4 linked regions of the Homo sapiens genome follow. The protein of the gene in region 4 interacts with the protein of the main gene of each other region in a pairwise test. Each region holds a gene or a part of one and is shown on either strand. Other genes may lie near its edges. The genes, in order: ATG9A, PATZ1, FAM222B and ANKRD10.

The links.
Region 1: the proteins of ANKRD10 (region 4) and ATG9A interact in binary tests that used the Homo sapiens proteins (3 or more experiments, as listed by UniProt).
Region 2: the proteins of ANKRD10 (region 4) and PATZ1 interact in binary tests that used the Homo sapiens proteins (3 or more experiments, as listed by UniProt).
Region 3: the proteins of ANKRD10 (region 4) and FAM222B interact in binary tests that used the Homo sapiens proteins (3 or more experiments, as listed by UniProt).

Annotation. Positions count from the first base shown.
Region 1 is NC_000002.12:219,219,637-219,227,104, reverse strand, and holds part of ATG9A (autophagy-related protein 9A), read left to right. Parts: intron 1-171; coding exon 172-236; intron 237-1,532; coding exon 1,533-1,694; intron 1,695-1,892; coding exon 1,893-2,034; intron 2,035-2,250; coding exon 2,251-2,999; intron 3,000-3,082; coding exon 3,083-3,236; intron 3,237-3,340; coding exon 3,341-3,520; intron 3,521-4,211; coding exon 4,212-4,460; intron 4,461-4,654; coding exon 4,655-4,833; intron 4,834-4,937; coding exon 4,938-5,055; intron 5,056-5,802; coding exon 5,803-6,025; intron 6,026-6,212; coding exon 6,213-6,358; intron 6,359-6,652; coding exon 6,653-6,658; 3' UTR 6,659-7,468. UniProt on the Homo sapiens protein: Phospholipid scramblase involved in autophagy by mediating autophagosomal membrane expansion. Cycles between the preautophagosomal structure/phagophore assembly site (PAS) and the cytoplasmic vesicle pool and supplies membrane for the growing autophagosome.
Region 2 is NC_000022.11:31,329,176-31,336,643, forward strand, and holds part of PATZ1 (POZ-, AT hook-, and zinc finger-containing protein 1 isoform long C), read right to left. Parts: intron 6,689-7,468; coding exon 6,517-6,688; intron 6,242-6,516; exon of another isoform or gene 6,174-6,241; intron 1-6,173. UniProt on the Homo sapiens protein: Transcriptional regulator that plays a role in many biological processes such as embryogenesis, senescence, T-cell development or neurogenesis. Interacts with the TP53 protein to control genes that are important in proliferation and in the DNA-damage response.
Region 3 is NC_000017.11:28,755,598-28,763,065, reverse strand, and holds the end of FAM222B (protein FAM222B), read left to right. Parts: intron 1-909; exon of another isoform or gene 910-992; coding exon of another isoform or gene 993-1,080; intron 1,081-3,189; coding exon 3,190-4,796; 3' UTR 4,797-7,086; downstream 7,087-7,468.
Region 4 is NC_000013.11:110,904,817-110,912,284, forward strand, and holds part of ANKRD10 (ankyrin repeat domain-containing protein 10), read right to left. Parts: intron 5,955-7,468; coding exon 5,802-5,954; intron 1,309-5,801; coding exon 1,217-1,308; intron 1-1,216.

The sequences.
Region 1 (7,468 bases), on a different chromosome or scaffold from region 4:
TATTCCTAATGTACCACCATGGACAGACAAAAGTTTAGACAGGTTAAGTAACTTGGTAAAGTCACACAGCTAGAAAGTCACAGAGCCAGGACTTAAGCTTGAGTGTGTTGACACCAAAGTCTGTGCTCTTACCTGCTTTCTTTACTGACTACTTTTTCTTAACAATTACACGTTTATAATCTGCACCAGAAGAATGGCTTCACATGTATGCTCATCGGGGAGATCTTTGAGCTCATGTAAGTATAAGAAGGGACAGATGATGTGGTGAAAGAATACATCTTAGTCTTTCCTCTCCTTGCACTCACACTTGGCCCAACCTGCCAGTACAACTCAGTCCTAGGCTAAAACTCCGTAAACCTTTGTAGTTCAGGGACTGGGTGTGGCACCAAAACTTACAGCTTCACCTTTCTTTTTTTTTGAGATGGAGTGAGTCTCACTCTGTCGCCCAGGCAGGAGTGCAGTGGTCTTGGCTCGGTGCAACCTCTGCCTCCCAGGTTCAAGTGATTCTCCTGCCTCAGCCTCCTTAGTAGCTGGGACTACAGGCATGTGCCACCATGCCCGGCTAATTTTTTTTGTATTTTTAGTAGAGATGGGATTTCACCAAGTTGGCCAGGCTGGTCTCGAACTCCTGACCTCGGGTTATCTGCCCGCCTCAACCTCCCGAAGTGCCGGGATTATAGGCATGAGCCACCACGCCCGGCCAAGCTTTCTTACAAGAAAAGCTTTCCAAGCCTTATCTCTTCCATGAAAAGAACCCAAGCCTTGGTTGGGCACGGCAGCTCACACCTGTAATCCCAGCACTTTAGGAGGCTCTAAAAATACAAAAATTAGCTGGGTGTGGTGGCACACGCCTGTAATCCCAGCTACTTGGGAGGCTGAGGCACAAGAATCGCTTCAACCTGGGAGGTGGAGGTTGCAGTGAGCCGAGATTGTGCCGCTGCACTCCAGCCTGGCTGACAGAGTGAGACTCTCTCAAAAAAAAAAAGAATGCAGGCCTTGACCTTGATCATCTCAACGCTCCAATGGAACGTACATTGTTCAGTCAGGAGGTCTCAGAGATGCCAGCCACAGAGAAAAGCCTCTGTTCTGCCTTGCCTGTTCCATGGCCTGCTCCTAGGCAGAGAGCCTCCTGGGAGAGAGAAGCCATATAGCATTGCCGAAGGGGAAGGGGTTAGGAAGCCCTCCCTCAATCAGAAAACTCCCCCAAGGGCTTTTAACTACAACCTCAAAAGGAAATCAGAGACTGGAGATCAGAGACCCACAGGATGAAACCTTCGAGAGTCCAGTAGTGGTGGCTGAGGTTACCATGAGGTGAGGAAAGTAGGCTGCAGCTGTGGCAGCTGAGGCTAAGAGCAAAGAGTGGGCCTGAGACAGTCCTGTGGGGCTGAGGAGCAGAGAGGGCCCACTGGGAGTTCTCCAGGCCCTTCCAGTTCCCAGTCTTGTTCTGCCACCTCCAGACTCTCCTCTTCCCACTGGGTTTCACTGGAGCCTCTCTGGCTCTCAGACTGCACCCCTTCTTCCCAACTCCCCAGGCAGTTCCTCTTTGTGGTTGCCTTCACTACCTTCCTGGTCAGCTGCGTGGACTATGACATCCTATTTGCCAACAAGATGGTGAACCACAGTCTTCACCCTACTGAACCCGTCAAGGTCACTCTGCCAGACGCCTTTTTGCCTGCTCAAGTCTGTAGTGCCAGGTAAGGGCTGCAAGTCAAGAGGACACCATAGCCTTGAGTTCTGCTAGCAGGTGGGTAATAGAGTGGAGTCTGAGGCAGCAACTCATACTCCAGAACTGACTCAGGCTTGGTCTAGCAAAAATACTTCAGGATAGCAGCGTCTCTGCCAAGACTCCTTCCTCGAGGGCCACCTCTCCTCCCCTTCTTTTTCCCCACCAGGATTCAGGAAAATGGCTCCCTTATCACCATCCTGGTCATTGCTGGTGTCTTCTGGATCCACCGGCTTATCAAGTTCATCTATAACATTTGCTGCTACTGGGAGATCCACTCCTTCTACCTGCACGCTCTGCGCATCCCTATGGTAAGACTGGGAAGTTGGGCAGTTAGCCCATAGTCTAAGACGTATTGGGAGGTGTGGGTGTATTCCTGGGCATCAGTTATCCTTATCTGTCATTGACAAATCAGGAACTGTCTCTTAAGCTCACAACCCCTGAATCTCACTTCTAATATAGGGCAAAGGGGTCGAGGCAACAACCCCACCTTCCGTACCTTGTCTCTTCCCCACCCCACCCCGCAGTCTGCCCTTCCGTATTGCACGTGGCAAGAAGTGCAGGCCCGGATCGTGCAGACGCAGAAGGAGCACCAGATCTGCATCCACAAACGTGAGCTGACAGAACTGGACATCTACCACCGCATCCTCCGTTTCCAGAACTACATGGTGGCACTGGTTAACAAATCCCTCCTGCCTCTGCGCTTCCGCCTGCCTGGCCTCGGGGAAGCTGTCTTCTTCACCCGTGGTCTCAAGTACAACTTTGAGCTGATCCTCTTCTGGGGACCTGGCTCTCTGTTTCTCAATGAATGGAGCCTCAAGGCCGAGTACAAACGTGGGGGGCAACGGCTAGAGCTGGCCCAGCGCCTCAGCAACCGCATCCTGTGGATTGGCATCGCTAACTTCCTGCTGTGCCCCCTCATCCTCATATGGCAAATCCTCTATGCCTTCTTCAGCTATGCTGAGGTGCTGAAGCGGGAGCCGGGGGCCCTGGGAGCACGCTGCTGGTCACTCTATGGCCGCTGCTACCTCCGCCACTTCAACGAGCTGGAGCACGAGCTGCAGTCCCGCCTCAACCGTGGCTACAAGCCCGCCTCCAAGTACATGAATTGCTTCTTGTCACCTCTTTTGACACTGCTGGCCAAGAATGGAGCCTTCTTCGCTGGCTCCATCCTGGCTGTGCTTATTGCCCTCACCATTTATGACGAAGATGTGTTGGCTGTGGAACATGTGCTGACCACCGTCACACTCCTGGGGGTCACCGTGACCGTGTGCAGGTGGGCCAGGGCCACAGGCGGGAGCAAGCCGGCTAGCATTCCTGGGAAAGGCATACATCTCACCATGATCCTGATCCCACTAGGTCCTTTATCCCGGACCAGCACATGGTGTTCTGCCCTGAGCAGCTGCTCCGCGTGATCCTCGCTCACATCCACTACATGCCTGACCACTGGCAGGGTAATGCCCACCGCTCGCAGACCCGGGACGAGTTTGCCCAGCTCTTCCAGTACAAGGCAGTGAGTGGAGTTGGAGTTAGGGCCTGCTAGAGACTGGCTGGTAGCTCGGTGGTGAGGGCTGGGCTCCCTCCTGCTCGCTTGTGACCTTGGTCCCGCCCTTTTAGGTGTTCATTTTGGAAGAGTTGCTGAGCCCCATTGTCACACCCCTCATCCTCATCTTCTGCCTGCGCCCACGGGCCCTGGAGATTATAGACTTCTTCCGAAACTTCACCGTGGAGGTCGTTGGTGTGGGAGATACCTGCTCCTTTGCTCAGATGGATGTTCGCCAGCATGGTCATCCCCAGGTACTGGGAGAGGAGGGAGCCAGGTGGCCTGGGATGATGCTGGAACATACAGTGTCTTTGGGAAAACCGCAAAAAGACACCTCTCCTGAGTCACACAAAGGCAGTCCTATACCAGGGGCACACTGCTTGGGAGCCTGGGCTGGATTTCAGCCCTAATTCGCACCCTTGGCCAAGCTCCCTTAAGAAAGGCACAACACGGCCAGGCGCGGTGGCTCACGTCTGTAATCCCAGCACTTTGGGAGGCCAAGGCGGGTGGATCACGAGGTCAGGAGATCGAGACCATCCTGGCTAACACGGTGAAACCCCTTCTCTACTAAAAATACAAAAAAATTAGCCAGGCGTGGTAGCGGGCGCCTGTAGTCCCAGCTACTCGGGAGGCTGAGGCAGGAGAATGGCGTGAACCTGGGAGGCGGAGCTTGCAGTGAGCCGAGATCACGCCACTGCAATCCAGCCTGGGCGACAGAGCGAGACTCCATCTCAAAAAAAAAAAAAAAAAAGGCACAACACAAGTAACTGGCTCAGCATGCAGTGCAGCCCCTCCTGGGTCTGGGGGGGCACCAGTGCCCTGGGAAAGATTGACAGTATACTGTGGTCTCCGTTCTCCAAGGGTAAGGCCTCCCCACTAACAGGAAAGGTGCAGGAAGGCTCCTGGAAGAGAACAGCCCTGCTTACTCTGCTCTTCCTTGTGCAGTGGCTATCTGCTGGGCAGACAGAGGCCTCAGTGTACCAGCAAGCTGAGGATGGAAAGACAGAGTTGTCACTCATGCACTTTGCCATCACCAACCCTGGCTGGCAGCCACCACGTGAGAGCACAGCCTTCCTAGGCTTCCTCAAGGAGCAGGTTCAGCGGGATGGAGCAGCTGCTAGCCTCGCCCAAGGGGGTCTGCTCCCTGAAAATGCCCTCTTTACGTCTATCCAGTCCTTACAATCTGAGTCTGAGGTGTGTTCCTGGTGACTGGGAGATGATGGGCAGAGTGGACTTCAGGAGCTGGGAGTTGAGGGACCGGGCATGGGGTGGAAGGCTTCCTGCTGTCTCTTCAGTATGTGCCACTGGGGCCTGAGATACAGAATACTAGGGGACCCCAGAGACCTTTCTCTTGCCTCAAGAATTCTACCTACCCGTTTCGTTCATAGCCCCTGAGCCTTATCGCAAATGTGGTAGCTGGCTCATCCTGCCGGGGCCCTCCACTGCCCAGAGACCTGCAGGGCTCCAGGCACAGGGCTGAAGTCGCCTCTGCCCTGCGCTCCTTCTCCCCGCTGCAACCCGGGCAGGCGCCCACAGGCCGGGCTCACAGCACCATGACAGGCTCTGGGTGAGTAAATCGGGGCCAAGATGGGAGGGCACGGCAGCCCTCAGCAGCTTGTGTGGGTCTCAGAGAAGTTCACAGCTGCTGTCTGTCTCTGTTGGGAGAGACAGGGTGGATGCCAGGACAGCCAGCTCCGGGAGCAGCGTGTGGGAAGGACAGCTGCAGAGCCTGGTGCTGTCAGAATATGCATCCACAGAGATGAGCCTGCATGCCCTCTATATGCACCAGGTGAGTGCACAGCTAAAAAAGAGAGTAGAGGGTTTAGATGCGGAGAAGCAAGACCGGGGTTCCAAACCCTTCTCTGCCATTTACTTGTTCTGCCACCTCCACTCCCATATCTACCTTCTTAATATCCTTTTTAGCTAAGCCTGCTCTCATCCAGGGCCTTCACACACTCGCAGTTTCCCCTGCCTAGAATCCAGTTCCCTGGGATATCCAGATGGCCTCCTCCTTCTTCTTGGGTCTCTGCAGCTGCCGTTTCCCTGAGACTTTCTCTGATCACTCTCAGTAAAAGGCTCCCTTGCCCACCCTCCTGAATCTTCCTGTCTTAGTTTTCTCCATAGCATTTAGCACCATGTGACATATCATGTTTTTTCCTTATTTATTTGCTTATTCCATATCTCCTCTACCAGTATATAAGCCTCACAAGGGCTGGCATTTCTGTCTGTTTTGTTCACTGCTATCTCCCCACACCTAAAAGAGTGCCTGGCACTTAGACCGTCAGTCAGTTTGTTCCTGAATCAAATGAATAGGTAAAATGAGGGCCATTACAACACAGGCTTCTTCCGGGGATCTGCTGTGAATGTAACCTGTAAAGATCAGAGGTATATTACACACTATTAACATAATAGGTGCTCTGAGGCAAGGATTCTCAGGGAAGGGGTAAAGCGGGAACTGACTGATACCAGGTTGGAGGGCAGCTGTTTCAGATGGACATCCGTCTGTCCCCCACTAACGAGCCCCCCATTTCTCCAGCTCCACAAGCAGCAGGCCCAGGCTGAACCTGAGCGGCATGTATGGCACCGCCGGGAGAGTGATGAGAGTGGAGAAAGCGCCCCTGATGAAGGGGGAGAGGGCGCCCGGGCCCCCCAGTCTATCCCTCGCTCTGCTAGCTATCCCTGTGCAGCACCCCGGCCTGGAGCTCCTGAGACCACTGCCCTGCATGGGGGCTTCCAGAGGCGCTACGGTGGCATCACAGGTATCCAGTGGGGGTATAGGAGGAAACAGAGGCTGCAGGGAAGGGTGGTTCTTCCAGGGCCTCTCAAGGGGAGGAAAGAGGTCTGAGAGAACAGGCCCAAAGACTCACCCCCCAAGCAGCCCCCCAGCCCTGTTCCTCATTCTTGTGTTCCTTCTATGAGTATGCTTACTCTTACTTGTCTCTCCAGATCCTGGCACAGTGCCCAGGGTTCCCTCTCATTTCTCTCGGCTGCCTCTTGGAGGGTGGGCAGAAGATGGGCAGTCGGCATCAAGGCACCCTGAGCCCGTGCCCGAAGAGGGCTCGGAGGATGAGCTACCCCCTCAGGTGCACAAGGTAAGGGCCCCGGGGCCTAGGAAAAACTGCCAGAAATAGTAACTTCCAGGGTGAGGTAACAGCTTTTCAGGGGAAGGAAGATATGCCCCACCCCCACACAGAGATACTGTACCCTCCCTTCCAAAACACACTACCCCTTCTTTTCTCAACTGCTCTGCAGGGCTTGGTTTTTCCTTACCTTACCTCCCCAGGAATCAACCTTTCCTGTCCCTTTACCTCTAGGTTTCTATGGGGCTAGCAGGTATCAACCAGAAGCTGAAGACTATCTCCATTACCAACCCTTTCTCCCCACAGGTATAGACAAGGCTGAGCAGGGTTCCTGTGGCCCAGGATGGAGGCCACCGCTGCCCTGCCATCCCGTCTGCCTGCCATGGGACGGCTCCTCTGAGTGTTCCCTGGCCCCACGTGTGTGGTGTTTGTGTGTCTGTGCCTGGCCAAGGGAGGTGCCAACACTGGGCTTGCCACAGCCCCAGGAGAGGAATTTGGGGCCTAGGAACCGAGGGCACACGGGACTCTAGCCTCATCCCCAGGACCCCCTTGGCTCAGAGTGTGGTGCTAGAAACTGGCCCCCAGCCCAGCCCCAGTACTGCCACCTTTACACCTACCCCTGCAAGTCCCCAGAGGGCTGCCCACGATAGAAGCTGCCAAGCAGGGAGAACCTGTGCCAACTGTGGAGTGGGGAGGTTGGGCCTGGACCCTCAACCCCTGCAACCTTCCCTAGCCCCCTCAATAGATGAGCAGGTCAGGCTGTGGCCCTTACCTCACCCGCAGTTCTCGCCCAGTGCTGCAGCCGGCTCACCTCTCTCCGCTTCTTGCACATCACTGGCCTGTGTGTGCTGCTTGCTCCTGTTCTGTTCGCTTGCTCCCGTTCCGTTCGGCTTTTGCTTTGCGTTAGGGTGAAGACCCTAGCGTCCAGCTCCCCTCAACGCTATATTTTGACACTAAAAAAGAAGGTTTCTAAATTGTAGGAGCAGGATGGAAATACTTTGCTGCCCTTGCCATCTTTTAGGATGGGCCCCCAGGAGACTGAGGTCTTCCTGGGCCCTCATTGCTGCTTATCGTACCCCCCATCACCTGCACATGGGACAGACCGGGCTGGAGGGTGACCTT
Region 2 (7,468 bases), on a different chromosome or scaffold from region 4:
TGCCTGGTGGGATGGCCTGAGATCCTGCTCCTGCTAGGGCCAGAGGCCAACTGCCTCTAGGGTTGCTTGGTGCCTCAGTAACAGGTGGTTTGAGTGGATGTCTCCTGCAGGAACCATGACTAGAAATGTGGTTAGACAAGAATTTGAGGCTCCAGGGAAGCCACAGGATTCTAGCCAGCAGGATGCCTGCTTAATCCTCGTAAAAGGAAACTGGACAACAAACGAGATGGAGGTAAAATGAAATCCCAAAGGAACGCCTCCAAGGATCCCGTCTTCTACCTGTCAGGAGATGTTCTATTTTTCTAACTTCCCCACCTTCAGCATAACAGGATTTAGTAACTGTTTAGACCTTTTGAAGAACAAAGACAAAAATAGGAAGTTGTGTCAGAGGAGTGCAGTCATCTCTTATTCATGGTAGTGTTTTGGTTCGATTTTGGAGCATCCACCAGGTTCGCGTACAGGAGAAGAAACACGGATGATCTCTGTCTTTATTTTGGGGGAGGACAATCCGGCCTTCTTGGGACTGTTCCAGCCCACCTCCCAGATGCTTCGGTCAGTCTGATCCACGAGATATCTCAGGCTGGGAAGAACACATCTTGGGCCAACTTCCACAGCAGCCATGCGTCCAAGGATACAGAATCAGGCAGGCCGATAAAAGGATTTTGACTTGGGTTTCACAGGAAGGAGGTATGCCATCAAACCCCACTGTAGTCAAGGATCAGAAGGTGCTTTTAGCAGGAACTGAAGCTTTTTAGTATAAGGCCCACTTAGGGTGCCAGCACCCTGACAGTGTCCCTTTAATCCACTTCAGATCTGGTTGACTCATCATCAGGTGTTTCCATTCACTTTCAAAATTACACAGTCACAGGATAACAGTGAGATCCACTGCTAAAGGGTAAAGGGTCAGAGGCTGAAGAGTACTGTGTAATGTCTGCATGAGATTTGTTTTAAAAAAGTCTGAATTGGCATGGTATTTTGAATGCTGCTGGAACTGTAATAAAGGTTCACCTTTAGGAAGTGCTGATGGCACACCAGGGCCCAGCACACCGCATGCACTATTCTATAGAATTTGCCCAACACCCTTTGTGCTACAGATTACTATTATACCCATTTTACAGATAAAGAAATAAGAGGCTTTGTGAGGTTAGGGAGGCTGAGGTGGGCAGATCACGAGGTCAGGAGATCGAGACCATCCTGGCTAACACAGTGAAACCCCGTCTCTACTAAAAATATAAAAAATTAGCTGGGCGTGGTAGCAGGCACCTGTAAGCTGAGATCATGCCACTGCGCTCCAGCCTGGGCAACAGAGCGAGACTCCGTCTCAAAAAAAAAAGAGGCTTGGTGAGGTTAAGTAACCTGGTCACACGTACAGCTACTGAGTGGCAGAGCCTGGACTCCAACCCCAGGATCATGTGCCACCAGAACTTGGCCCTTAGCTACTGGGCAGATGCTTTAACCCACTTATGCCTCATGTTCCATTATTGGGACGCTAACCTTTTAGGAATTATTTGTATCCTACTGCTCAAGATCATCATTAAAGTCTGATTTTTCACAAAAAAGTTTGTAACCTCCAGCATAAATGGGTTAATTGGTTCCTGTGTCTTAGCCCTGAGCCCTAGAAATATCCAGTGGACTTTTACAATAGGTTTCATTATTACCATTTACACTCATGTATTTTTCGACCATAATGGTATGTTAGAATGGAAGCTGCTGGAAAAACAGGGCTGGCCTGTGGGAACTTTATTTAACAAGTTCTCCTCTGACAGCAGCAGTTAGTGGTTCTGAAGGGAAATGTGGGATTGGGCCAATTTTCCTTCCTTTCCCAATACAGCTACTTCAAAGATCTGTCTAGACCAGGTGCTGGTGTCCTGCCCTGCCTGGTAGAGCAAGTTGTCCTGTGCTATGACCGCAGTGGTCTGCCTGAGGCTGATCATGGGTATAGATTGGTGTAAGAGGGTCCCATGTAGACATCCCTAAGAGGGAGGCTGTAGTCAGGAGTGAGGAGACAAGGCTAATGGGAAAGAGGCTGTTAGCCCTGCCCCTTGGGGTGGTACTGTAGAGTCCCCTAAAACAAAGCAGAACCAGGAGACATTGGCTCCCACCAATCAGTACAAGATATTAGAACTTTCTGATAATATGATGATACCACTTTAGAAGGTAATTTTTTCCTTTTTTTTTTTTTTTGAGACAGAGTCTCACTCTCGCTCAGGCTGGAGTGCAGTGGCACCATCTCGGCTCACTGCAAGCTCCGCCTCCAGGGTTCATGCCATTCTCCTGCCTCAGCCTCCCTGGTAGCTGGGACTACAGGCGCCCGCCACCATACCTGGCTAATTTTTTTTGTATTTTTAGTAGAGACGGGGTTTCACCATGTTAGCCAGGATGGTCTCGGATCTCCTGACTTCGCGATCCACCCGCCTCGGCCTCCCAAAGTGCTGGGATTACAGGCGTGAGCCACCGTGCCCGGCCTTTCCTTAGTTTTTTAATCCCTTGTGGGGTCTCTAAAATAGCATGAAGCTCTCTCCCTGTGATGAACCAGAGCAGGTCCACTGCAATCAAAAGGGGACAGAAAGGAGCGGGAGAGCACCAGGAATTATTATGTTTACTCCTTACTGGGAGAGCTATACCAAGAGAACACAGCAGATGCTCAATAAAAACTTGCTGAGTTTGGCTGGGCGCAGTGGCTCATGCACTTTGGGAGGCCGAGGCAGGCAGATCACCTGAGGTTGGGAGTTCCGGACCAGCCTGACCAACATGGAGAAACCCTGTCTCTACTAAAAATACAAAATTAGCCGGGCGTGGTGGTGCATGCCTGTAATCCCAGCTAACTAGGGAGGCTGAGGAAGGAGAATCGCTTGAACCAAGGAGGTGGAGGTTGTGATGAGCTGAGATCGCGCCATTGCACTCCAGTCTGGGCAACAACAGCGAAACTGTCTTGCTGAGTTTTCCTGAAAAACAGTCTTAGAAACACGTGGCTGAGTCCTCTTGACTTTACCCCAGCTGCAGACTGTACTATCTATAGCAAAACCACATGGCGGGGTGGTAGGAGTGGATCCACAGCTGCCACTTAAAGCCTAGAATTTAAACACAGAGCAACTCAGCAGCCAAGTGTTAGGATGAAACAGAAGCTGAGCTTCTGAGCAGAATACGTCTTTGAAGCCAGACATATTTAGCCGGAATTCTAAACTTACCCACCCATTCACCACTGATTAACCAAGATCCAAAGAGGCAGCTTGATCCAGCCATCCACGCAATGGAGATGCTGAGCACACATATGACTGCCACTACAACCAACAAGCCACCGGCCCTTTCACTCCAGAGACGATGGTCTTATTAGCAAAAGGCCACTGCTCCTCAGTTGCATTTTCTTGCCTGGTGTGCCTGCACTTGGCACTCCAGAAGCAAATCATCCTTTGGCAGGTTCCACATCAATGCAGGGGTTGGGGACTGCTTTCTCCTTGTCCAAACCCTGAAGGGGCCATTCCCAACTGCACTGTGTTGGAGTGGGCCTACATAGCTTGATGTGAGTCCAGGGGAACAGCAGGTTCCCTGCATCCATCCACTTGTGTGCTTACCTCTGACTGGGGAGAAGGCTTCCTCTACCTTTCAAGCAATGATGTTTGCATTCAAATGTCTCTGTCAAAGGCGGATTCCTGATAATCTGTTCCTCTTCACCATACCAGCACATAGGCATATATACAAAGATCCTGCTACAGAAACTTTAAAGGAAGAAAATCATGGTGATCAGCCAGGGCCTTCTCCCTTTTCCACTGTTCAACTCAACTGATTTCCTCAACTCAAAAATGTGGGAACAAGCTTTTCTAGCCATAATACTCCCTCCACTGCAAATGATCTTCCTGTACAAATAGTATCATACACATCCTGATATGTCTGTATGACAAAGCCAGAGTCATCTGTCTCTTCAACTTGCATCTGACTCACGTGTGAGGCTGCAGGAGTCAGGCTGCCTTTCCTCTTTGCCATTCTTCACAGCCAGGAGTCATTTTTGTGGCAAAAATTGAAAAAGACAGATCTATAGGTAGATACTTAAGTCAACTATTTAAGAATTGTTGGGATTGAAGGATCTGAGGGCACCTGGAAGTTCACCTGATTCAATCTTAACTGTTCTGACATTCAGCCTTTGTTTGAACACATGCAGAGATAAGAACATTCGTTTATTCGTGCAACCCCTCCTGTAGGTACAGGCTTGGTGGCAGCAGGGCAAAGGAGGACACAGAGCTCTCTGCATTTTGATTCCAATGTCTCAATGTTTTTGGTGCTCAGAAAGAACTTTATCCTCTTCCTTTTTTTTTTTTTTTTTTTTTGTCTCTTCCTATTTCTGCCCAAGGAATGAGTCCAGGAGTAGAATCCTGCTCCTTCTCTTCTGATAAAAACTGCAATTGTTTTCTCTTCTTTCTGAGTACCCAGCATGGGTTGGACCAGCACCTTCTTTAGTCTTCTTGCAGGAAAGGGACTTCCCGCTCTGGCTCTGGAACCCAGAGATGTTTGGCCTGTGATCCAGACCCAGTCTTGGCTTTTCTGAGAAAAAGTAGACTCTGGTTTACTCTTCTGGATTCTCCATTCCGGTCATGTAGCTTATGGCTGTTGCCCAAGTTCTCTTTACTAGCCCTTGGAAAATAAATCCTGATGTACAATAGTTGTTGGCTTTGCCACATCAGCTGCTTCCTTACTGGGCCAACTTTCCCACTGTCCCTGCTGCTCTCAGTTTTTCTCTCCTCCTGAGCTGGGCTTCAAGGGCTGTAGCCCTGGGTCTCCTGTCCAGTTTCTGCCCTACTCCACCATCTGGTCTGGGCTTTCTGAGTTTTATCATGAGCACCCTTCTCCACTCAGCAGTTTTCAACCTCTGGTCTCTGACCCCAGTTCTCAGACTGGGAACTTCCATATTGAAAACTTGACAAAATGCCTGCTAACAGCTTGTTACAGCAGGTTTTGAGTTATCCGGGGGAGCTGTCAGGAAGCCAGGTTAGGATGAAGCAAGACAAGAAACGACATTATTTCTAGGGCTGGGGAAGCCCCAGTCAAGACAGTCAGCCACAGCCTGATAACTCTCCCTGCATGCGCAAGCCCACCGCTTGCAACCTGGAGGAAGCTCCTGTCAGCAATGGGCTCTAATGACATGTCAGAAAACAGAACAGACAGCTTAAGAGACCTTCACTACTACTTCCCTGCTTTCACAGCAGGTGTCCTGGTGGTACAAACCCCAGGTATGAAGCTGCAAGGAGGGACCCAGTTCCAGGACACCAAGAACACCCAGCTACTCAGCAATCTCCTTCCACCGTGGACCTCGGCACATGAACACAGCACAGGCACCCAACGATTCCGCCAAGGCCTGCAGGAGTGTTGTGCCTGGTCCAACCCAGAGTGTCAACAAGCATGTCTTTCCCAACATTGTTACAAAGTGCAAGGATAGAGTCTCCCAAGTGTGCGGCTCCTTTCACCTACCTTGTCTCCTGGGATCCTCATAACAGCCCTGTGAGGTGGGAAAGGGGGCTATTCTTAACCCCATTTGAGAGATGAAGAAACTCAAGCTTAGAGAGGGAATGGGAGAACTCGAGGCCACCTAGTGAGAGGCTGGGACTAAACCCTGGGTCTCTTGACTCCTGGTTCAGTGCTGCACCCACTAAGCAGGCTTTCGGAAGCATTGGGACAAGCAAGAATGCCCCAGGAGATAAGGACATCCCAGTGCTCCCCACTGGCCAAAGCAAAGCACACCATGCAGAAGCATCCTCACGTTCACAGATAGCTGCTCCAACCTCCTTTAGCACAGACACAGTGCAAGCCTCCACTGATGCTGTGCTTGCAAAACACAAACATCTAGCACTTCCAACAGCCAACTAGACCCGGCAGAACCTTGGGGACAGGCTTGACTTCACCCAACACAACACCACTGCCACAGAGTTAGACACTACTTAGGCCCACCTTGTCCTCAAGCATGCTGCCCTGCTCAGAGCACCTTCCACTTTCCTCTCTCAAGGCCACAATCTACCTGAGTTTGGGCTCTCTTCTGACTACTTGTGCTACAAAGTGTCTGCTCCTTGTTTATCTCCAGACTCAACCTCCTTCCCTGGCTGCTGAATTTCATATGCCAGTGAATCAACCAGCAAAAGCTCTCAAGCCGGACCAACCTCTTTTTCTCTCACTTTGGGACCTACTAACTCCCCCACCAACCTCAGTGGTTCAGTGGTGTCTGCAAAATGCATCCATCCTGCCATCTGAGTAGCAGGTGAGAGTTATGGGCCCAAGCTTGGGAAGAACCTCTCTCCTTCTGTTTTGACCTGCTGGTCTCCTGGGACTTCCCATTCTAAGCACCCCAAGCTTCTTGGGAAGGAAGAGGTAGCAAATAGCTAGTTGGGTGATGAAGGTGTTTATCATTCAGTGGGAAGTAGGGGGTGGCTGTGCAAAGAGTGGAGTCTGAGGCAGGGTGATTGAGACACCCCTAGGCCTCCCATACACGCTCAGGCCCATCCTCTGGAAGTGAGGAAACAGTGGGCAGATTACCTCGGTTACAGATACTGCAGAAGTTGCTGGGCCCCTCGCTGTGCTTCTTCAGGTGGTCTGCCATGTATGCTGCCCGCAAGTACTTCCCACACACCTGGCAGGGCACCTTGTCTTCATGACAGGCCAGGTGGGAGCGCAGACGGTCTCGGGTGGCAAAAGAAGCATTGCAGGTCTGAAGGCAGAAAAGAAAATGGGATGATGTGAAACCCAGCACCCCACACCTGACTCCCCACCAAGTGCACCATGAAGCAAAGGCAATTTCTGGCCATCACATGACCTCCCTTTATAAAGACAGCTTTAGAGTTTGGCTCAGGCTCCCTACCCAGAATGCCAAGAGGCTGCTCTTATTTCCCATGGTACCTCCTTACGGGACACTTGAGTGGGAATCACTGGTACTAACTAAATGACTACTGGAAATGTACCCAGGACATGGCAAGCTAAGCTCTATACCCCTCTACACAATGAAGAGTTACACATTTGCTCATCCTTAGACATTAAGAATTGACTTTAGGTGCATTAGCTATAATGCACAGAATTACATTTACATGAATTTACAGATGAGTTATTGGCATATAAACCAGCCTTCCTGTTCTGTATCCCTGGGTTTCCCCTAGTTTTATACAAAGAATTATATTTGTTCATTTTATTCAAAAGTGACATTAGTCTTGGCCAGGGAAATGGAAAGGAAAGGCAGGACAAAGTGCAGAGATAATTATTCGTAATATTTTCACGAGTTTGAATTGAAAAAGCAGCCCATTAAATGATAGTGGCAATTCTGACGACATGAGAATTAGCAGACAGCAAGGGCCAGAGGCTTCAAAAGTGTCTGTGGGCCGGGTGCGGTGGCTCATGCTTGTAATCCCAGCGCTTTGGGAGGCCGAGATGGGTGGATCACCTGAGGTCAGGAGTTCAAGACCAGCCTGGCCAACATGGTGAAACCCCATCTCTATTA
Region 3 (7,468 bases), on a different chromosome or scaffold from region 4:
CGCTTACAAAGCTGTGGTATCTGTGTTGGCTGTGTAGTTACAGAAATACATTACAGAAGAAAATAAGTAGTCAGGGTGCCTGTGTGGGGGCTGTGATAAGTGTTGAGAAAACTTTTTTTTTTTTTTTTGAGACGGAGTCTTACTCTGTCACCCAGGTTGGAGTGCAGTGGTGCGATCTTGGCTCACTGCAACCCTGCCTCCCGGGTTTAAGCAATTCTTTGCCTCAGCCTCCCGAGTAGCTGGGATTACAGGCACCTGCCACCATGCCCGGCTAATTTTTTGTATTTTTTTAGTAGAGACGGGGTTTCTCCATCTTGGCCAGGCTGGTCTTGAACTCCTGACCTCGTGATCCACCCACCTCGGCCTCCCAAAGTGCTGGGATTACAGGCGTGAGCCACCATGCCCAGCTGAGAAAACTTTTTTTTTTTTTTTTTTTTTTGAGATGGAGTCTCGCTCTGTCACCCAGGCTGGAGTGCAGTGGTGCAATCTTTGCTCACTGCAACCTCCACCTGCCGGGTTCAAGCAATTCTCCTGCCTCAGCCTCCCAAGTAGCTGGGACTACAAGTGCGCTCCACCATCCCAGGCTAATTTTTTGTATTTTTAGTAGAGACAGGGTTTCACCATGCTGGGCAGGCTGGTCTTGAACTCCTGACCTCATGATCCACCCGCCTCGGCCTCCCAAAGTGCCAGGATTACAGGCATGAGCCACTGCGCCCAGCAGAAAACTTTTTTTAAGAGTTAGGCTTAAGTCTGGTATGTGAGGTAGATGGTGCTGTATTCCCAGAATGATACCCCTTTTTTGTTCAATATACTGTACTCATCTTTGGGGTTCTTCCTTAACAAAGCTACTGTAGCCTTGTGGCCACCCTCCCTACCCTCATTTCACTTTATTTCTGAATCCTTTGACAGCCCTCTTCACCATTTCAGCATCAGTGGAGGCAGGACAAAGAAAACTAATCAATGTGGATAAGTGTCCCCTTCCATACTCCTGAATGAGGTCAAGCTTCCCCCTTGCCTCTGCTAAAAAAAACCTCAGAGTTGGTACTAACTTGGAACAAAGGGACTCTTCTACTCATCAAGGTACTATACGACTTCTACTTGGATTTCAAGGAGAGAAGCCCACCAGCATGGAGGTGGGCTAGGTTTAAAGCACTGTGCTAGGAGTATTATATGAGATTATGACCAATAAGACACATAGGTACAGTGGTTGACCAAGGCAGCTTCTGTTGGAATTCTGATGTCTTGAGTTTAGGGACTTGCTCTCAATCAGTGATCCCAGACTTTTTTGCCAGTATTTGAAAGCACAGACCTGTTTTGGGAGGTGGGGATGCCTGGCTCTTTTTGCCCAGATCTGCTTGTGAGCATGGGCCCAAATCTCTCTGCCCCTCCTGACTTGAGCTTTCTTTTCCTGCTTCCCAGAGCAGGAGTTGCTAACCAGCATTATCACCAAACAAAGAGAGCTGTACCCATTTTCCTTCTAATATGCTCATTAGCCTACCTTTGTTCTAGGTGATGCCCAGTGATGTGACTTTGAATAGAGTCTCCTTTGGGCCAAGGCCACCTGAGGCCACAAGCTGGGCATTCAGTCAGATTAGTCGTTGGCCTATCCTCCTGCCTTTTGCAAGAGGAGGAAGTAAGGAGAGAGTCGGCTAGCTGAGCCTGGGCTTCCTGCCAAGCCACTTCTGCTTTGGGCAGTCTGTGTACTCATTCAGCAAGCATTTATTAGGCACCTTTTGTGTATACTCAGGGGAGACCCTCCCTCAGAGACGAGAGAGTAGAGCAGAGCCCCCTTGCAGGAGGTTGGCATCCTTAAAGAGCCCTTGTTCTCAGAACCTTTTCCTTTTTGACTGGAAGCCGGACATCCGCTGAGCCCCCTGATGGGAGGCAACAGGAGATGGGAACAAAGAGACTGTTAACATTAATGAGGCACACCGAGTGGGCATTTCCGCAGTCTCCAAAGGCAGGCAGGTTTTTCCTCTTTCTTTTTGGAAAATGACAGCTGACATGGACCAAATACAGACTATTTTTGGCTCTCAGGACTGAAAGGACTGAAAGATGCTCTGAATCCTTTCTTCTCAATTCCCTCCCTGCTGCCCTGTCATTATTATCTTCCTTCTCAAGCAAATAAATAAAGCCTTTGATCCTCATCCAGTCGGGCATAGAGTAAACTGTAAACAAAAGTGAACTTGTGACATGGGGAAGGGGAGAGATGTTGGCAGCTTATTCCTCTGCTCCTGAAAGGAAGCATTCTGTCTACTGTTCAGGGTGCCCACCCAGTGGGCAAAGCCCCCCAGCTGCCAAGATGCAAGGGAAAGCTGATCCCTCATTGGTCCCTGCAGACTGAAGAGTCGTAGCTCTGGGTACCCTCTAGACTGAAGGGCCACCATGGCCCTGACAAGGAGCTTTGCTTAGAACCTACCCCCAAGCCACATGGGCTGGTAGAGTTCCAGACCCTGCATTTCTCTCTTTTTTTTTTTTCTTTTTCTGAGACAGAGTCTTGCTCTGTCGCCCAGGTTGGAGTGCAGTGGTGCGATGTCGGCTCACTGCAACCTCCGCCTCCTGGGTTCAAGCAATTAATCCTCCTGCCTCAGCCTCCCAAGTAGCTGGGATTACAGGTGCTTGCCATCACGCCTGGCTAACTTTTTGTATTTTTAGTAGAGACGGGGTTTCGCCATGTTGCCCAGGCTGGTCTTGAACTCCTGACCTCAGATGATCCACCCACCTTGGCCTCCCAAAATGCTGGGATTTACAAGTGTGAGCCACCGTGCCCAGCGACCCTGAATTTCTGTGTAGGGGGAGAACTCTCGGTTACCTCTCTGAGAATTGGCCAAATTCTGGTTCTGCAAGATATGAGACTTTGAAAGATGCTTTGCTGTTCTGATCTCTACTTACCTCATTTATAAAATGTAAATGATGATAGTGCCTGCTTCTACAGCAATAGTGAGGATTCATTGAGATGGCCTGTCATCTGGCAGAAGGCCTGGCCCACTATAAGCACTTACTGAACATTAGCAGTGCTTGTTAATGTGAAGACTGAAGCTGGGTCTCGAATGAAGGCTACAGATGACAATCTAGTCATTTCCCCACCCCACCCCAGGCCCTCAAAAGGGGAATCTGGAAGGGCTGTTTGCCTTGGCACTGATGAGCTCCCTCTCCCTCTTTGCTCTCCTTCCCATTCTCTCTCTCTAGGGGACACTACACAGAAAATGAGAACTGCTCACTATCCTACCCCAGCCGAATTGGATGCGTATGCTAAGAAGGTCGCAAACAACCCACTGACTATAAAAATCTTCCCCAACAGTGTGAAGGTTCCCCAGCGGAAACACGTTCGTCGTACTGTGAACGGCCTCGACACATCAGCCCAGCGCTACAGCCCCTACCCGACACAGGCTGCCACCAAGGCAGGCCTGCTTGCCATTGTCAAAGTGCCAGCCAAAAGCATACTCAAGGACTTTGACGGCACCCGAGCCCGGTTGCTCCCTGAGGCCATCATGAACCCCCCAGTGGCACCCTATGCTACTGTGGCACCCAGCACTTTAGCCCACCCCCAGGCCCAGGCTCTGGCCCGCCAGCAGGCCCTGCAGCATGCACAGACCCTGGCCCATGCCCCTCCCCAGACGCTGCAGCACCCTCAGGGTATCCCGCCACCCCAGGCACTGTCCCACCCTCAGAGCCTCCAGCAGCCTCAGGGCCTGGGCCACCCTCAGCCCATGGCCCAAACCCAGGGCTTGGTCCACCCTCAGGCCCTGGCTCACCAGGGTCTCCAGCACCCCCACAATCCCTTGCTGCATGGAGGCCGGAAGATGCCAGACTCAGATGCCCCCCCGAATGTGACCGTGTCTACCTCAACTATCCCCCTTTCAATGGCGGCCACTCTGCAGCACAGCCAGCCTCCGGACCTGAGTAGCATCGTGCACCAGATCAACCAGTTTTGCCAGACGAGGGCAGGCATCAGCACTACCTCAGTGTGTGAGGGCCAGATCGCCAACCCCAGCCCCATTAGTCGCAGTCTGCTCATCAATGCAAGCACCCGGGTGTCGACCCACAGCGTCCCCACACCAATGCCTTCATGTGTGGTCAATCCCATGGAGCACACCCACGCGGCCACCGCCGCGTTGCCTGCTGCAGGTCCTGTCAACCTGCCCACAGGCATCTCTCGCGTCCCCACTGGCTACCCTAGCGACCTCAAGCCAGTCACCTGGAACCAGCACCAGCTGGCCCACCTACAGCAGATGTGCAGCGAGGCTAGTGGGACGCCAGCCCCTGGCCTGACAGGCAAGCATGCGGCAGGACGCGAGTTGGCAGGGCCTGGCTTTGTGGGCAAGGCCCCTGCCTACCCGCAGGAACTCTGCCTGGCGCAGTCCTTCCATCTGAAGCCACCCCTGGAAAAGCCGACCCCATCCCCACCAGTCAACGGCATGGCAGCCCCATTGGCCTACCCCAATGGTCACTACTTCCAACCCCTGTGGAACAACATTCTGCCCACTCCCAATAGCGACAGCTCGGGGTCTCAGGACCTTGCCATGCCGTTCCACGGTGGGCAGCCCACAGGTGCACCCCTCGACTGTGCGGCAGCTCCCGGGGCCCACTACCGAGCAGGGACCGGGGGCGGTCCAGTGGCAAGCCAGAACAGCTTGATGCAAACAGTGGATTACCTAAGTGGGGATTTCCAACAGGCCTGCTTCCGAGAACAGAGCCTGGCCATGCTGAGCAAGGCCCACCGAGCCCCTGGCAACCGAGCCCCCGATCCCACAGAGAGTCGAAGTCTTCATATTCAGCACCCAGGGTATAGATAGGTAGCCCTGCTGCCCTCCACGTGCAACACATCATACATCACCCTCCTAGGTTTAGTCTTTTAAGTAACTGGATAGTTTCAAAGTTTCACTGCTCCAGTGTGATCATTCTTAGATGTCTAAGAAAGGGAATTTGGTGGGATCTAAGTGGGGACAGAAGGGGTCCTCTCGTCCTCCCCTCCAGCAACTTTTGGTTTTATGTTAGAACCTAACCCTAAGCCCAGGCTTTTCTCTCCACTGACTGCCTGTCAGCTAGTCTCTCCACCTTGGCCATTTCCAGCCAGCTCCCACCCATCTTTTCTTGAATCTCTTCCTGTTTCCCTTAGGACGACTGAGGTGTGGGCTGACGGAATGCCCTAGTTGAGGTAGTATAGGTGCTCAGGCCCCTAATCCAGACCTCTACCTGTTGCTACCCCCCTTCCCCTCCCTCCAGGACTAAGAAGCAAGATTTCCCAGGTGCTCTGAAAGCTAATTACTTACTCATCGAAGGATCTCAAATCAAAGCTGACCCAGTCTTCATATCCTTCAAGTTCCTTTCCATTCCTCAAGGCTTTGTTTTGTGTCTATATTGATCCCACAGCCACTGCACTTGCCCTTGCCACACTTGATCTCAAGGGCATCTTGGAAGTATTTGACCATTTCTTGAGATATGGGGGGAAAAAGTCTTTGTATTGGCATCTTGGTTCCAGACTCCCCTTTCCAAACCTAGAAAAATACAGTGACCTTTGAGCATACCCAAGATCCCTTTCTCACTGTTGCCTGTCCCCTAACTCACCTCCCCACAGCCCCTATCCTTTCCCCCTCAACAAAAACAAAATCTACCTTACTTGAGGAATTAGGTAGGTAAGGAATGATCACATTGGAGTTTGGGATTAAAAACACCAAAAAAAAAAAAATGCATTTGGTTCTCTCTACACTGGCTAAGAATATTGCTCTACACTGTAAGTTTTAAACGTTACGTTTCTGTATGAATGTAGTGTGGGTTTGAGTAGCATTGTGTGTGAGTGGCCCCACAGGTACATTCACCCTCTAGTGCAGCCCCTCAGTTTAATGAAGGAAAAAAAAACAAACACAAAGCCTTAAGCTCTTTGAGTACTTCCTTTACCAAATGAGCATGGTTCTAACACCTGGAGCTGGGCCTACATTGGAAACAAGCCCCTCCTGCCCTCTGTCCATTCTTAGAGCATACCTTCATCCACTCCATGCTCAGCACGTCTCATCCCAAGCGACAATTAGTTGGCTAGAAACACTTTTCTGTAATTTTAAACTTAGACTGTTTTGTTACAAATTTTTGCACCATTCTGTTAAAGATGCAGAATTGGGCTTTTTTATTTTTTACAGATGAAATAAGCCCTTACCTTTCCTCTTGTCTCTGGGGAATGTCAGCTGATGGTTCTTATTTAAGGTTTTGCATTTTGTTCACTATCCACTACTGTTCGTTAGCCAGAAATTCTCTAGTGATCTGAAGCAATGTGACTGAAGACCAGTTTTAAGTTATGTGTTGGCAAGTTGCCTTATATTTAAAAGGAAAAAGAAAAAAAAAAAAGCCTGATTGTGTTATGCCAAATGATAGCAACATGAAGTCCTAATTTATTGTTCCCAATTGTTTTCCTGCCGTCTGTGAACACTGGTACCTCCCTGTCCTGATCCCCCAGGAGCACCTGTAGCTTCTGACTCAATGCCTTCTCCGAAGGTGTTGGCCGCCATCTCACCCAGGGCCCTCTTCCAGTTCCTGCTTTTCTGAGTCAGATTTAAAGAGCACCACTGTCTTCCCCCTACCCCTTGCTTGATCTCCAAAGCAGATATTCTTGCTGTATTTTTTTTTCCTCCCCAATACCTCTCCCTGAAAGGTGAGCTGCTATTTTAGGAAACTGGACCAGACACCAACTTGGGGGCTTTAAGTCAAACAACCTCAAACCCATCTCTTCCTGTGTAGGGGTGCAAGCCTCTGAAGCTCTCACTCCCACCCTTAGTCTGCATGGAAAATGTACTGTGATCCCCCTGCCCCCAACTGCCCTCGCCTTTGGTGTGAGATGTTCCTTCTTTCGGAGTTCAGCCTGAGTCCCTCTCCCCTCTGCCAGCCAACCCCCAGCCAGCAATAAGGGTCCAAGCCAGGGCCTCCTCTCCACACTCCCTGTCTCCATCCTACACTACCCTAGGGAATACCTGGATTCCCCATTCTATCCACATACTGTAGCATTCATTCTCCATCTCTCTCACCTCACCTGTGGTGGTTTATGGGTGTGATGGGGTTTTTAAGATTATTATAAACCAGTAAAAATAAGAAAACCTCGCTTTCTGACCTTGTTCTATTCGTTTAGTGCTGTGAATGTTTGAGGTAACTTTTTCTTAACAGTTTCTAACATACCTCACTTCATAGGAGTAATTCCTAATTTTTAAAAGGGGTACCCCTGTAATATGCATCCCACCCAGAAGCCGTCTCCAAATCCATTATTTAAGGCCAGGTGCTATGGTGATTGTAGACAGTTCTTCAATGAAACCCTGGACACAGGGTACCCGGCTGACAGGCCCTCTCCCTGGGCAGGGCTGCTGTGGGCTTACTGTGAAGTTTGAGGATAAGTGTGGTTTGCTGTCCCTCACTGGAGGCCCAAAAGGTCCTGCCACTTGCATTCCAAGGGCCATAAGTCATTGAGAAATGGCGATCTGGTTGTTTT
Region 4 (7,468 bases):
TACCAGATCACTATATAAGGATCACAGCCCAAACTAATGGCGAATCTTGCCAATAAACTTAACAAAACAGAAGCTAAGCTATTCACAGATGATTGACAGCCTCCGGTACCTACACACGTCGTGCATTAGCCTGTATGGTTTTGCTGTCTAGGATCTATTTTCAATATAATACAGAGTCAAAGCAATGAAATGGAAACCAAAGGGTTAAACTAGTTTTGTGGGTTTTATTTCCTCCGAAGTCTAAATGTTCACATTTCTGATTAGAATAATGTGGTTTATAATTAATTTTCATGAATTATTCATAACACTTAAGGTAAAACAAAAAAGCTGATATTGGTTATTTTGGTTATTATAGCTCTATAGCTTACACTCAACATTTAAGGGTGAAAACCGCATCCATTTTGTTAATGCTGTGAACTGCAGAAGAAAAATTTTTATAATATAAATTTTTAAGAAAAAGTTAATACAAATAAATGTAACAACTAAAATAAATGTATAATGCCATGGCTAATGATTTGCATATAAGATCTCATTTCTAAAAGACTACACGTAAACATTAAGATTGTCCTATCAAAGCATAAATAAGCTAACTGATGTAAGCTGGGCTAAAACGAAAGATATTTAAAAATAATGCCACCAGTACCAGAAGCTTACAGCAAGCTTGAGGTCTTTAATGTAAATAGTCATATTTTACAAGGAACTATCAACCATTAAGTTACAATGGGCTTTAAAACATAACTTTCTCACATCTGCTAAGACGTGGAAATCAAAACCTAGAAAAGTGAATTTTCTTCAGAAACCTTCTGAGCCAGAGAGGTCTGAAAAGATATTTTAATCCAATCCAAGCTTCTTGTTTTGAAATCAAAATTAGGCAAAGAAAAGTTTAAAGACCACAGTGACACAACTAGTTAGTGGCAAAGTAATGGTGGCAAAGTAATGATGCCAAGTTCCAAATCTAATTAGTTAACTGTTCTTTCAGTTCAAATACACTCTCTCGACAAGAATATTGAGGCTGCTGTGAAATTAAACCCCCTCCTCTAGAGATCAATTTAATCCACACAATTTTCCTCACTAACACCAACTGTTCTAAAAGGCAAAATTACATTACTAATTTTGAAAACAAAGTTTTAGGACTTTTGCCTGCTTATGTACTGCCTTTAAACAAAACATCCTCAACTACATCTTTAGCTGGAAAGAATAAACGAAAGACACTTACTCGACGTGAGCCCCATTCGCCACAAGGGCACTGATGCATTCTAGGCTCCCAGAGCGAGCTGCCTTGTGAATGGGAGTTTCACCCTCACAATCCTGAAACAACAAAAAGCAAAATATACACATACTTAGAACAAAACTTCTGACATTTTGGAAGTAATGTCATTAACACAGATCAGAGACCTTCTCATCCTTTTTTGAAGTAAAACATGTTGAGCAAGATCTGAAGCAGAACACAAAGAAATCTATACGTGAATGGAGGATGAGAACGAACCAGGAGGGGCCAAGATATTTGGTCGTTGACCAAATATCTTGGGGCCTCTCCAGTAGTGACAGCGTGATTGCTCTCAACAGTGATTTATAAATCACTTTACACTGGATCTTAGCACGTGTGTTTTATATAAACCCAGAATAAGTAACCAAACAAACAAGCCAACCAACCAACCACACACACACATTAAAACGGTCATCAAGGCCAAGAAATAGCACATAATAGCTGACATATGGTCTCAGCTACCCACTTTCCTCTGTGCCTACCCCAATGCTAACCCGAGTCAACATCATCAATGCCGATCTTGAATCTTCTGCTTTGAACTTGAAGTGGGACCACAACTTAGACAAGATGGCTTGAGGTTCAACAGTTGATCTATTTTTCAGTATTTACTAGAGGGAATATTTACTAAATATTCCCAATCTATTTTCAGTATTTATTAGAGGAAAGGGAGAAGAACACAAAGGTAAAGCAAACCAAGCTTCATAAGAATGAAATTCCTGGTTCAGAAAGTGCAGAGGGGGTGGGGTGGCGGCGGTGGGGAGGTGAAGCACACACAGAGGCAGAGAAAAGTGAGCAGACCCAGGAAAGCCACTGTGAACATCAGCAGTCAACCCAGGTCTACACTGCATGAATGAAACAACCTGAAAGACCATCTTCATAGGCTATCAGCTAAGCAAGAGAGGGGAAAGGCAATCAGACACAGCAATCAAGAGAAGAAAGTGCTTTCCGGTGGAAAATGAAGACTGGGAAATCCTGGGGGCTCCACAGCAACACTTCTTTTTTTTTTTTTTTTTTTTGAGACGGAGTCTCGCTCTGTCGCCCAGGCTGGAGTGCAGTGGCGGGATCTCGGCTCACTGCAAGCTCCGCCTCCCGGGTTCACGCCATTCTCCTGCCTCAGCCTCCCAAGTAGCTGGGACTACAGGCGCCCGCCACTACGCCCGGCTAATTTTTTGTATTTTTAGTAGAGACGGGGTTTCACCGTTTTAGCCAGGATGGTCTCGATCAGCAACACTTCTTGAATACTCACACTGCAACCTCACTGGAAGCTGAACTGCGCAGACTACCACACAATTAAGAGACCAAGATAAAAAGGAGTGCAGCAACTGTGGGTCACTTAGAAAACAGTTCATTCCTAAACTCACTAAATAGCTAAGCTCCTTCACCAACTCATACTCACAGGAATAAACATGAGGTGAGGGCCACCCAAAGTTAAAAAAAACAGTGGTAGATTAATTTACAGAAAAATAAGAGTATGAAAGGCTCGAGTGCTTGGTAGAGGGAAAAGTGTGCACATTTATTTAAACAAAGGTCTAAAGAGACTATAAAGCAATGTAAAGTTCTAAACAGAAAAATCCATTTTTGAAGACAGAAACACAGAAAACCATGCGGCTATAAACTATCCAGTCAACTCGGATTTTTTAAAAAGCGAAAACCTAGCCCTATCCTCCCCAAAAGAGAGGTGAGGAGGGGAGAGAAGTAGTACAAAATAAAGACAAATAAAAATTACATAAAAACATTCCCAGGAAAACTGGAGCTGAGATTTAGATAAAGTTTTGCCAAAAAAGAAAAAGGCTAAAAAGGAAAAAAGGTCTTTAAAGCTATCCTTGGAACAAGACAAAAAAGTAAGGGTCTGTCACGGTGGGATATTAACAGATGACAATGAAAAAGCAAAACTACCAAGCTCTGCAGGGACAATCTTTAGGGGCAGAGCAAACACTAGAGAAAGGCCCGGACATCCTGAGAGAAGGTAGCCAAGAGAAAAGATACGTAAGACTAAAGAGCCAGGTGAAGGTGCCCGGGCCTCCAGCTCAGCCCAGTCACATCGCAGCCACAGCAAATTGAGTGATCTACAGGGAACTGGGAGCAGTGCCAGAATGCTCAAGACAGGCTGGGCACCCTGGGTTTTCATAAAGAAAAATTTCATTTCCAATCTAGATATGAAAAATTAAAGACAACATCAAATGCCAAAATTCTAGAAGAGGCATATGAAAGAGAAGGTTTGCTAATTACGCACCAAGGCTAGTCAATATAGATTCACTAAAAACAAATCACAGGAAAGCTGGCTTCATTTCCTCTTGGGGAAATCGAGAACACAGGCCTCTAGGCAGCATACGAGCTTTGGTAATCTCACCTCAGAGACTGCCAAAAAAGTCTGTGGTATTAACTTTGAGGAAAATGAACTTAGAACTGTTAGTAGCTAACATGCCAAAAGATTAACAGACTAGAAATTGGCTTAAAACACTGCATCAACAGGTTCAAAAAATTAAATGGACACAACAAAGGAGAAAAACCTGGATTGGATTTGGCATCCTGAGTTTATATGAGAAATGAGAGAAACTGTCTACCTGGAGATGAGTCAGCAGGTAGGCGGGGTGGGGAGCTAACAAAAGGGCTATTGTGTCCTCTAGAGTCACTGGGTGCCCATAACAAGAGGTGTTGAAATTCACCCACTACATAATAGAGTGAGATGATGCCTCAGATTCGGATGTAAACTCCACATGCCAGCAGACCACAACTACCTAAGATACACTAAGGAGAAATTCCAGGATGCTTTACAATGCCAAATGATATGCACTAGGCACATGTGAGGACTTGGAAATGTCTACCCGGATACTTCAAATACAGGGAGGGCTGAAAAGAAAAAGATTTTAGGATCCTGCCTGGGAAGAAGCAGAGTGCGGTAGAAGTTTCCAGGAGGTGTTATCTAGAGGCATCTGAGAGGAAGGTGGGAGACCCAGCAGCACACTTTCTGCCTCACTCCCTTTATCTACTGAAAATACTGAACTGCCATAAGACACTTTGAAAAGGGGGCTTCTTGATTTAAAAAGGTCTGGAAAGCAGTGTTAGACAATTTCTCTAGTCCTCTCTAAATAAGATGCTATGTAACAATTTGATGAAAATTAACCTACAAAAATGATATACTTAAATTCCATACTATTAATTACTGCCATTCATGGAATTATTAACTGTATTTTACTGATAAAGAGATTGAGCCACAAAGTTAATGACTTGCCCAAGGAATCAAGCCCACACTGCCCTTTCTACCAGGGGACAGGGGTAGGGAAGAAGGAAAAACACAAGGCGCTGCCCAGCACATAAGGGTATTGAGTAGGTAATTCATAACTCTCGAATTTATGAAGACAAGCAACAGAGCAGCAGAGAAATATACATTATGTAAAGGCACACGTGTGGAGATGGAAGGAGAGAAGTGGCAGCACAACCTTAAAACTTGTCCCATATCCCACATTTCAGTTTAGTAACAAACAGGCCTCAACTCTTGGCCACCTTCCATTTTCTTTTCTACTTCACATCTTTTAAGGGGACAAACTGCCTTATAACTTACCCCACTTTCCCATTGATCCTTGTTTTAAATCATGGCTAAAAACACCTTCTTTCTCAATTACTTACTGCTCAGGTGGGTAGCTGGGTTTTTAGAAGAGGGACTAGCAACAACCTTATGCCTGGTTATCATGAAGGACTGAATCTTGGGAAAGAAAAGTAGAAAGACGACTTTGCATCCAAGACCTTGATGACTATAAAGCATTTAAAGATAGGAGTAAAAAAGGCATAAAAACCAGCTCCCAGAGCCCATGCCCAGGTCTTAAGAGATGAAAATTATCAATTAGTCTAAGGACTAATCCATCTGCAGCAAAGGACGCTGAGTCTAGGGACTGCTCCCAGTCAGACAACCTAATGGTTATTAGATGCTGCTTGTCTCACACAACTAAGTACCTAACAATCTGAATGCGTGTGTGTTTGGTTTAGGTGAAATGATACTGAAAACACACCATGAAGAAAAATCTGGCACGATTATGTTCCTGTCAGTATGTTTAAATACCAAGTCCTCAAGTCACTTACTCTTCCCACTTAGTAAATGATACTTAGCACTTATCTGCATCAAGGCATCAACTTGTATCTGAAGCTCACTTTGGAGCTGACTTAATAGCCATGCTTTTCCCAGGATGAAAATGTTTTCATAATTATCTGTGGAAATGAGGCTAAGGCAGCTATGAGTAGAAAGCCAGGAAACCTGGGCTCAAGGCCAGGCTCCTTTAATTACCAGCTATAACCTTGGGCACATCACCCTGGATCAGTTTATCACACAACAGGTGAAAGCACTCTATGAACAGAAAGCATTCCTATGGAAAGGGCCTACTATCCTCCACAAACAACTGAAGAAACATAAATTCCAGTCTGCCCTCAGGTAAAGATATCAAACTCTAATTAAGGCCTCGATTTAAAGCAATACCGTGTATAATTATAACTGCAAAAAGAAAAAGCAAAAGCAAACCAAGTCCATCACCAGCACTCTTACCGGTTTGTTAATGTTGGCTCCTGCTTGAATCAGCCAGACCAGGCACTGAGGATGTCCCCCAAAGGCTGCAATGTGGGCTGGCGTCTGCGCGTACCGTGTGGTGGAGACGTTGAGTGTGGCTCCCGCTCTCACCAACTGCACTAAGCACTCCAACTTCGAAAACAAGAGGGGTAATGAAAACACGCAGACATGTCAGTACACTATTCAATATTACATGAATAATCGAAATTCTATAATGGTGACAAATGGCATTGTTACCAGTTTTTTAACAGATTAAGTCACTCTTTCCCAATGCCATGCAAATTTTAAAGGACATTTAAGATAACATATTCCCTTGTCCTTATGAAAAAGACGGTAGATAGAAATAGAAAAATGCAAAAAGACGACTAACACTATACAGATTTAAATATTTGTTTCCCTACAATTGAATAAGCCAAAATCAGAAAATATTGGACTGCGCTGTTCCAAGACTTCTATCAAAACTGTTTGTTGCACAGACTATTCTAAACAAAAACGTTAAAGGGATTGGTGGGTTAAAAAACTTTGTGTAGGCCGGGCGCAGTGGCTCATGCCTGTAATCCTAGCACTTTGGGAGGCCAAGGCGGGTGGATCACTTGAGGTCAGGAATTCGAAACCAGCCTGGCCAACATGGTGAAACCCCATCTCTACTAAAAATACAAAAAAATTAGCCGGGCGTGGTGGCGGGCACCTGTAATCCCAGCTACTTGGGAGGCTGAGGCAGGAGAATTGCTTGAACCCAGAAGGCGGAGGTTGCAGAGGGCTGAGATCACGCCACTGCACTCCAACCTGGGCAACAGAGCAAGTCTCCATCTCAAACACCAACACCACCACCACCACTTTGTGTAATGCCAGGCGCAGTGCCTCATGCCTGTAATTCCAGCACTTTGGGAGGCCAAGGCGGGTGGATCACCTGAGGTCAGGGGTTCAAGACCAGCCTGGCCAACACGGCGAAACCCCATACTGGGGTTTCAAAAATACAAAATTACAAAAATTACCTGGGTGTGGTAGTGCATACCTAGAATCCCAGCTACTCAGAAGGCTGAGACAGGAGAATCACTTGAACCTAGGAGGTGGAGGTTGCAGTGAGCAGAGATCACGCCGCTGCACTCCAGCGTGGGCAACAGAGCAAGACCCTGTCTCAAAAAAACAAAAAACAACAACAAAAAACCCCACAAACTTTGTGTAGCCATAGTAAACTCGTCATAGTCAAAGACTATTTTCTATAGTGTGCACAACTGTGCACTTTTACACAAGCCAGCACTGAATACTCATTGAATAATCAATAGAGGCCCCATTCTCCACATTTTTTTACTCTTTTCAAAACCCTATGGGGGAAAAAAGCCTACAGCATAACTGAGCAATGCACCTAGTGGGTGACTAACATGGCAAGTTAAGACTTTGTGGCCAAGCACCAATACCATGATAGCCTCTGGCTAAAATAATTTAGCGCATTCAACAAATTTACCAAGTGCCTACCATGTGCCAAGCAACTGTTCAACCCACGTTCTCTGATCCTGGACTGCTCATTTTCCCTCACTCCAATCACAATGCAGTTAGGGAACAAGCTATGCCTGACTGCAAGCAATTCTCTTCAAGAGGAGAGACCTCACCTGAAGACAAAACACCTGACACTACCATCTCAACTC